2 separate regions of the Homo sapiens genome follow, and region 1 is reported to be linked to region 2. Evidence: microRNA targets listed by miRTarBase, many of them from high-throughput screens and not tested one by one. Region 2 holds a microRNA gene; the other region holds the end of a gene's coding sequence.

The links. Region 2 holds the annotated microRNA hsa-miR-6735-5p (CAGGGCAGAGGGCACAGGAAUCUGA, at 4,519-4,543, shown strand). A microRNA usually pairs through its seed, bases 2 to 8, with sites in the 3' UTR of a target mRNA and lowers its output. Matches are read on the target gene's strand: a 7mer-m8 pairs with bases 2 to 8, a 7mer-A1 pairs with bases 2 to 7 and ends in A, and an 8mer does both.
Region 1: the mRNA of TMPRSS5 is a reported target of hsa-miR-6735-5p. Seed matches in the 3' UTR shown: 7mer-m8 at 561-567 and 7mer-m8 at 569-575.

Annotation. Positions count from the first base shown.
Region 1 is chr11:113,685,484-113,688,483 of GRCh38, reverse strand. It overlaps TMPRSS5 (transmembrane serine protease 5), which reads left to right. Exons shown (of 13, transcript NM_030770.4): 13 at 210-934. The coding sequence ends at 224. LOC107984390 (a long non-coding RNA gene) reads left to right here and starts at 1,974. Exons shown (of 3, transcript XR_001748391.2): 1 at 1,974-3,000.
Region 2 is chr1:43,444,026-43,449,965 of GRCh38, forward strand. MIR6735 (microRNA 6735) reads left to right here and starts at 4,514; the gene lies at 4,514-4,586. SZT2 (SZT2 subunit of KICSTOR complex) reads left to right here. Exons shown (of 72, transcript NM_001365999.1): 63 at 1,869-1,959; 64 at 2,154-2,234; 65 at 2,317-2,391; 66 at 2,930-3,143; 67 at 3,520-3,673; 68 at 3,824-3,946; 69 at 4,054-4,459; 70 at 4,587-4,703. SZT2-AS1 (SZT2 antisense RNA 1) reads right to left here and starts at 4,619. Exons shown (of 2, transcript NR_046744.1): 1 at 4,078-4,619; 2 at 3,751-3,907.

The DNA of each region.
Region 1 (3,000 bases), not on the chromosome of region 2:
GTAGATAATACATTCGGAGTTTACAGGGAATGTATGTATTGATCTTCTCAAAGAAATCTTACAAAAAATCTTGAGCAGCAGATATTTTTAGCCTCATTTGATAGAAGTGAAAATCAAGGCCCTGCATGGTTAAGTGATTTACTAAAATAAAAGTCGCTTGGCTAGTGTAGAGCCATGCTGTGAATCAGTTCCTTTCCCTTTTGGTCTAGGACTCCCTCCTCTGAGTCCTGCTGTTTCCTCCAGTCTCACTGCACACCACTGCCTCATGCTTCCTGGGGCCTCCAGCAGCTCCACTAATGGAGGAGAGGCAGTAGCCTCCGACACAGAACGCATGGACCTCCTACTACTGTGTGTGAGGAACAGTCACTACCCACTGGCCAGCCACCCAGCCAACAGGTCTCTCCTCTTGGGCCCTGATTTCAGAGTCCTCTTTCTCACTAGAGACTCAATGACAGAAGAGAGGCTGGGACTTGGTTGGGCATGCTGTGGTTGCTGAGGGATGAGGGGGAGGAGAGAGGTAGGAGCTGGAGATGAAGAGGCTGCTAGAAGCAGCAGGAAGCCTGCCCTTCTGCCCTCTCCCCTCCCTGCCCCTGTGTGAGTCTTTTGGGAGGGTGCTGGGAGGTGCCCCCCGTCCCACCTTTTTCCTGTGCTCTAGGTGGGCTAAGTGCCTCCCTAGAGGACTCCATGGCTGAGAGGCTCCTGGGCAGATGGGGTCAAGGCTGGGCCAGCCCAGATGAAGCCTATGGGAGTCAGGACCCTCTCCACTCTCCCTCTCCACTCCCCTTCCTGTTCTCACCTGGCTGTGGCTGGCCCTGTGTGGGGTGGGTACACTGGAAAACAAGAAGGTTGGAGTTGGTCTAGGACATTGGTTTTAAATGACAGTTCTGTGAACTGGTCCAAGGAGTTCTGTTATTAAAGTGATATATGGTCTTGGTCCAGTTTTCTCTGTCTCCTCTCTCTCACTCGCACAAAGACAGACAGACAGACAGACAGACACAAACACATATTACAGGGTAGAATTACAATTTTCCTTCTATCTTCTATACATATTGAAGCTTTGGTGCTGACTCCTGTTCATCTACTTGAGAATTTTGGTTTGTGCTTATTTGTTTTGCCCAGGCTGGAGTGCAGTGGCACCATCTCTGCTCACTGCAGCCTCGATGTTGTGGGCTCAGTGCCTGCCACCTCAACCTCTCTGGTAGCTGGGACTACAGGTGCATGCCACCACACACGGCTAATTCTTCTTTTGTATCTTTTGTAGAAATGGGGTTTGTTTAATTCTTTAAATTTGTTAAATCTATATGTTGGCTGGGCGCGGTGGCTCACCCCTGTAATCCCAGCACTTTGGGAGGCCGAGGCCGGCAGATCACGAGGTCAGGAGATCGAGACCATCCTGGCTAACACAGTGAAACCCCATCTGTACTAAAAATACAAAAAATTAGCCAGGCATGGTGGCGGGCGCCTTGTAGTCCCAGCTACTCGGGAGGCTGAGGCAGGAGAATGGCGTGAACCTGGGAGGCAGAGATGGCAGTGAGCCGAGCCGCACTCCAGCCTGGGTGACAGAGTGAGACTCTGTCTCAAAAAAAAAAAAAAAAAAATCTACATGTCATGATCTGCAATGAAAAGCCTTAGCCATCCAGGTGCTCTGAGATCTTGAGTCTGAGAAGCACTTAAGTCAATGCTCTCTTGGGAAGGTCTGGTTTCCCTGCAAGGCCCATCTCTCCTTCTCTCTCCCCTTTTTTTTTTTTTTTTTTTTTTTTTGAGACGAAGTCTTGCTCTGTCACTCAGGCCGGAGTGCAGTGGTGCCATCTTGGCTCACTGCAACCTCTGCCTCCCGGGTTCAGGCAATTCTCCTGCCTCAGCCTCCCGAGCAGCGGGGATTACAGGCATACTGCAGCCACCATGCCTGGTTAATTTTTTGTATTTTTAGTACAGACGGGATTTCACCACGTTGGCCAGGCTGGTCTCGAACTCCTGACCTCAGGTGATCCATCTGCCTCGCCCTCCCAAAGTGCTGGTATTACAGGTGTGAGCCACCGCACCTGGACCCATCTCTCCTTCTTAGCTCTTGTTTTGGAACTGGGCCTTTGACTTGGCCTCTCTTTTTGAGTTTTATGCCCAGTTAGCATTTCCTTGGGTAAGCCTCTCCCCAACTCTCTCCTCTCTAGCAGTTAAAATGTGACTGGCATCTTCTTTCTAAAAACTGCAGTGAATTTTTTATGGTGCTTACCCAAGGAAATGCAACTAGTGTTTAGCAATAACAGAACTTTGTGAGTTTATCAGCATATTTTTTGAGGAGTTGTACAAATGATTACTCATTTCTAGAGGGTCTGCTCCCTTTACATGAAGTGCACTAGAAAATGAAGGTTTCAATTTACTGCCAGTTTATTAACCAGGGAAGTAGTTGCTGGGAGTCTGCTGTCAAACTGTAGAAGCAACGTGGGAGAAGTTCTGCTGAATGGCAAAATAGCCTCGCCCTGTGTCCCTGGAGGTCAGACCTTCAGCCTCTACCCTGGGATCAACATTTACTGCCCAGCTCCCTTAAGTCCCTGCCTCAGGAGGCACTGATGGGGTAGTAGATCCCCCTGGGCAGGGATAAGTTAACAGCAAATCCAGCAGCTGTGATCTTTTTTGTGTTTCTGATGTCAATCATAATCATTTGCATATTTAAAGGGAAGTTTAAAAAAATTACAGCCATCAAGGTCTTTCAATACTCAGTAACATTTGAATAGTGTTTTACAGTTTAGAAAACATGCCCATATGTGGGAGCTCACAAATCTATGTGGTGCAGATGTTATTATTATTGTCCTCATTTTCCAGATAAGAAAATTAATTCAGAGAGATTAAGTGACTCCCCCAAGACCACCCAGCTGGTAAGCACTAGAGCCAGGATGTCAACCGTGGGTCTTTTTACTCTAAATCCACATTACTGTCATGCACATGAATGAATGAGATGGTCCAGTATTGCACAGAAGAATAGAATTGGAAGGTACTTGCTCA
Region 2 (5,940 bases):
AAAACTGTGTCCATTTTCACAAAGCTCATGCCCACACACATCTTGTACACTTACACACTTGCATACATCCCCACATGTGAATTTTTTTGGAGATGGAATCTCACTGTGTCGCCTAGGCTGGAGTGCAGTGGCGCGATCTCGGCTCACTGCAACCTCCACCTCCTGGGTTCGAGCAATTCTTGTGCCTCAGTCTCCCAAGTAGCTGGGATTACAGGTGCACGCCACCCTGCTTGGCTAATTTTTTGTATTTTAGTAGAGATGGGGTATCACCATGTTGCCTAGACTGGTCTTGAACTCCTCAACTCAGGTAGTCCGCCCACCTCAGCCTCCCAAAGTGCTAGGATTATAGGTGTGAGCCATCACGCCCGGCCTGCACATGTGAATCTTGTACATGCTCCTAAGCCTCTGGATCTAGGACTTAATGATTCCTGTCCTTATCATCCCACTGACCTCTCCTGAGATTTGATGTAGTTCTCGGCCCAGGGAAGTCCTTTTCTCACCAAGGACCTCTGTGCTAGGCCTACTTGCATCACTGTCCTTGGCCTGTTCTTGGTCATGTTCACCCACTGGCCAGTACTGACAGGTCTGAGTCTTGGGAAGTAGGCAGCCCGTCTGTTGCCACCTCCATCTCCCCTGAGCTCAGGGACAACTCTGCAGCCACCTTTTCATCCACTGTCAAATCTCAGATTCCCGTGTTTGTGGCCCCTGCTCTATGTTCCTCTCCAGATTCTGTGTTCTCTGCCCTTTCCCAGTGGCTGTATGCGAAAAATGAGCTGTTCACCTTACACATAGCTACTTTCGTGTCTCCAGATTTGTGAGTTTATCAAGGCATGTTCTCCCTCCTCTCTGTTTTCAGTTAGAACCTTTTCAAGCCAGTAGTCCAGAAATGCCAGTTCCAACTCTCTCATGTTTCTGTGACCAGCTCCCCACTCCCCAGGTTTCCCTCTCTTCCAGGCATTAGGAAGAGAAGGCGTGCCTGCCCCTCCTGTGATCCCATCTCAGAGGCCAGGCTGGCCCCTCCTACCCTGGGGAGGAGCTGCCCAGCTTGCTATCTTGACAGCCAGTTCCCAGCTCTAGGAGCTTCTCTAAAGGACTTTAGTTTGCACACTTGCCATAAGTTATGCTCTTTCCCCCAAATCTGAATTCCTTTAGACACTGGGTTAAAAAAAAAAATGTTTCTACAGCAAAATTTAAAGCCAGGTCTTCCCTTCCCACCAATCTTTAACAATCACCAATCACTAAGTCTTGTCCCAGTTTCCTTGAGGTTTAAATGGGACATTTTTTCCACCAGAGGTTTTGACCCCCAGCAAGAATTCTGGCAGTTTATAGCCCCTTGGCGTGAGTGGGTCCCCCCAACCCCTTCTGTTCTGTCCCTTCTTCCCAGTCCCTCCCCTGCTTCCCTTCTCCCCTATCCTCTGCACTAAACTGTAACGAGCAGTAGGCCTCTGAAAGCCTGGAACTGCCATCCCCCCCAATCAAAAGACAGCAGCTTTGCCCTTTCAGAGGAAGGTACCTAACCAGGCATCAAGCATCTCCTTGAATTTTCCTAATCAAATTGTAGACAGGCATCACCTTCCCCCTTCTCTTTCCTGCCCAGCACACACCCTCTCAGTAGCAGAGGCTTAGTCTCCACCTCCCCACTGAGCACTGTTTTTGCCTCCCTTGAAGCAGCAGCTGCTATGGAGAGAGCCCAGCCTTGCAGTCTAGACCTGGACTCCAAGCCCAGCCTTGCCACTCACAGTGGCAGCTTTGTGGGTCTGTTTCCTCCCTTGCAAAATGATTCCATATAAAACAGATTCTGGGTCTGATCACCATGACTGCATGCCACTAGCCTGCCTCATCCTCTTATCCCTCCTCCTTTTCTATAGCACCAGCCGGCCACGGGCCATGGCTATCCTTGGAACAGAGGGTCGAGGCTCCTTCTCCTGCCCTAAAACCAAGACTGATGGGAGCCCCAAGGTAACTTGTCATATAATGGTAAAGTTACTGATGCTAAATTACTTTCCCACGGCCTGAGGTCATTGACCCTGAGTGATGTACCGAGGTCACTGATCCCAGACTGACACCATTAAAGTCAGGGTCCAAGGGACTTCCACCCTACTGATTCGAGGCTGGTGAGCCCCCAAACCTTGCCCCCTTTTTTGTTTCTTCAGAGCACTAGCTCTCCGGTAACCACCTACCACCTGCAGCGGGCACTGCCTGGGGGCATCATCCTCATGGAACTGGCATTCCAGGTAAGCAGGAGGAGCACTGAGTGGAGACAGCCAGACCCACCTGTCTCTCGCCTTCCTGATCTCATCTTCACCTTCCCTCCAGGGCTGTTACTTCTGTGTCAAACAGTTTGCCCTGGAATGTTCCCGAATCCCAATGGGGCAGGCTGTCAACTCACAGGTATGTGAATGAGCTGCGGGCACAGTCAGTGCACCCCAGTGTGCTGTGGGCAGCATGGCTCCATGTCCCATTTGCTGGGCAGTAGAGTAATGCAGTAGGCGGGCTGGCCCAGTGATTGATTCACTGCTATGGCCTGGCTAGGTCAGTGCTCATTCTGGTGCCATGACTGCACTCACTACAAGGCTGACCCCATCGGTCATCCAAAGCGTGTTCAGCTGTAGCCCTGAGGCAGCACAGTGCCTGGTCTGGCCTGTAGTCATCTAGAGTCTGTGGCAGACCCTGATGGAATCTGGGATAGAGCAAAATGGCCCAGTTTCTGAAAATGGCCCTAGTTTCATGGAGATAGTTACAATACAGTATGAAAAAGGGAGGCTAGAATGGGGAGGCCTTCCCACAGAAACCATTCTGGCAGAGGGCGTTCCACTAGGCCACAGCAGCAGGGGAAATCTTGTGCTTCTTCCCACGGAAGGAGGGAAATGTGTTTTGGGCAGCCAGTGCAGCCATACCTTAACCCTGTCTCCTGCTGCTGCCTCCCCAGCTGTCCATGCTGTTCACAGAGGAGTGTGACAAGGTGCGGGACCTGATGCACGTGCACTCGTTCAGCTATGACTTCCATCTGCGCCTCGTGCATCAGCACGTGCTAGGTGCCCATCTGGTGCTGCGGCACGGCTACCACCTCACCACCTTTCTGCGACACTTCCTGGCCCACCACCCTGACGGACCCCACTTTGGCCGCAATCACATTTACCAAGGTCAGTGCCCAAGGGCAAGCCAGTGAACCCAAAAAAGAACAGGCCACAGGTGCCTCCAGGTCAGGGCTGGTGGGACCACCTCCCTGGACAAGTGGTCCCATGTTGTTAATCATCTCATGTCACACATACCACGTCCCCATGTTTCTGTCCTGTGTCTGTTTCTTACCAGAGTTTGGACCCCATGTCACATGTCCCCTGCCCTCTGAGTCACTTCTGTCCCATCTCAGTGTTCCACAGGAATGCAGGAGCTCCTAAGGAAAGCAGACCCACTCTGCCTGCCAGTCAGAGCCTTAAAGACTCCCATCCCTGTGCCCCACCAGACCAGTGTGTCTGTCCTAGGCTTAGTGTCTGCTGTCTCCTGTTACTTATCCCTCAGGGACATTGGAGCTCCCCACACCACTCATTGCTGCCCACCAGCTATACAACTACGTGGCTGATCACGCCAGCTCTTACCACATGAAGCCATTGCGAATGGCCCGGCCAGGGGGCCCAGAACACAACGAGTATGCCCTGGTGTCGGCATGGCACAGGTAAGGCTGAGAGGGGCATCCAGCATGCACGCTGCAGGAGCTGGGGTTGGGACATACTTGCAGTAGGGAGACCAATGTTTTCTTGGGCAGGGGTGAGGTTTGTTTTATTAGAACCCCAGAGTTGACATCTCCCCAACCCGTCCTGCACAGTTCTGGCTCCTACCTGGACTCTGAGGGACTTCGACACCAGGATGACTTTGATGTGTCTCTGCTTGTCTGTCACTGTGCTGCACCCTTTGAGGAGCAAGGAGAGGCTGAGCGGCACGTTCTGCGGTCAGCAGATCCCCTACCTTGAACATGCCCATTTCCCAGCCTGCCCCACCCTGCCCTGTGTGTCTCTTGCTACAACCACCACTCTCCTGCCCTGCTCCCCACCCCAGGCTACAGTTCTTCGTGGTGCTCACCAGCCAGCGAGAGCTCTTCCCCAGGCTCACTGCTGACATGCGCCGCTTCCGGAAGCCACCCAGACTGCCCCCTGAGCCAGAGGCTCCTGGGAGTTCAGCTGGCAGCCCTGGGGAGGCCTCAGGGCTTATTCTAGCGCCTGGACCGGCTCCTCTGTTCCCACCACTGGCTGCAGAGGTGGGCATGGCACGAGCACGGCTGGCTCAGCTGGTGCGGCTGGCTGGAGGGCACTGCCGTCGGGACACCCTTTGGAAGCGCCTCTTCTTGCTGGAGCCACCGGGGCCTGATCGACTGCGGCTAGGGGGGCGCCTGGCCCTGGCAGAGCTGGAGGAACTCCTAGAAGCAGTCCATGCCAAATCCATTGGGGACATCGACCCCCAGCTGGTAAGGAACTGTGGGCTCCCGAAAGAGCTGGGATAGGTGCCAGGAATTCCACTGGCAGCCAGGGCAGAGGGCACAGGAATCTGAGGTGACTGGCACAGAAGACTCAGGCCTGTGGCTCCTCCCTCAGGACTGCTTCCTATCCATGACGGTCTCCTGGTACCAGAGCCTGATCAAAGTTCTCCTAAGCCGCTTCCCCCAGAGCTGTCGCCATTTCCAAAGCCCAGACTTGGGAACTCAGTACCTGGTAAGTCCCCTTGAGCTTCCTCTGAAAAGGGAAACACAGCAGAAATCCTCACCAAACAGATGTGCCCCTCAGCCTGACCAAACAAGCTCTGCTCTGGAGGGAGGCCTAGACAGAACGGGACTACACAGATACATGTAAAACCCTTCCAGTACCGGGCATCGAGCTACAGCATGTGATTCTCTGAGCAGCTCTGCCCTCAAAGACTCACCAAGAATACAAGCCTTGGCTTGAGATCCTGAGGGCCAGGCTCTGGAACTGACAACCCAAGGAGCTGTCAGAACTTTGTCAGTAGGCTGGAGCCCCAGAAAGGACCCCTTGGACTTTGAAGCCTTGTTACTTAAAGTGTGGTCCACAGACCAGCAGCCGCAGCACCTGGGAGCTTGCTGAAATGCAGGCTCTCCGGCCACATTTCAGACTGTTGACTCGGGATCTGCAGGTTGACAGTCTCCCCAGGTGATTTGTGTGCACACTGAGGCGTGAAAGCACTGCTGTAAAGGACAGGTAGAGAGAACTGTGGTGGTGGACACGAGCACAGGGCATTAAGGAGCCCACAGAGATGGGCCCAGCCAGAGCTGAGGTTCAAGAGAGGAGGCATTACAAGAGAAGACTTCAAGTGAGAAAGTAGGAGGTGGAGCCAGGTGAGGGGTCCTGCAGCACAGTGCTTGTGCAGAGGATTCATTTCAGGGTGCAGGAAGGGTCTCCCAGAGAAGCCAAGGTCAGTTAGGATGAGGCTGCAGTAGTGTCGGCGGTTGTGAATGGAGGCAGGTGCTCCTGCGGGTGGTGGGAAGGCTGGAGCAGGAGTGGGTTTTGGGGAAGGGTGACAAGCCCAGCTTGGGGCAAGCTGAGTCTGGGGTCCATAGGCCCTTCACTGTCTGCAAGGTCTGTGGGCATCAGGGATTCGAGCTCAGGAGAGTCCTAGGCAGCAGCTCTGTGAACAGGCGGTAACTGAAGCCTTGGGAGAGCAAATCATCCCGGGATGGATCACCAAGCAGAGCGTTAGGGAGCAGATGGACATAAGGGGACGACAAGACAATCCCAGGGGTGGTCAGAGAGGAGTCCCAGGACAGGAGGCAAGGAGGTTGTGCCAGGGGTACAGCACTCTCTGTTGATTGGCTTCAGTGTGCCAGGCTCTGTGTGGGGCCTCCAGGATCAACTGTTACCCCTCATTCTGATGCAGCTCAGACAGGCTGACCAGCAAGCCAGCGAGGATGAGGACTGAGGCTCAATTTGGAGACAC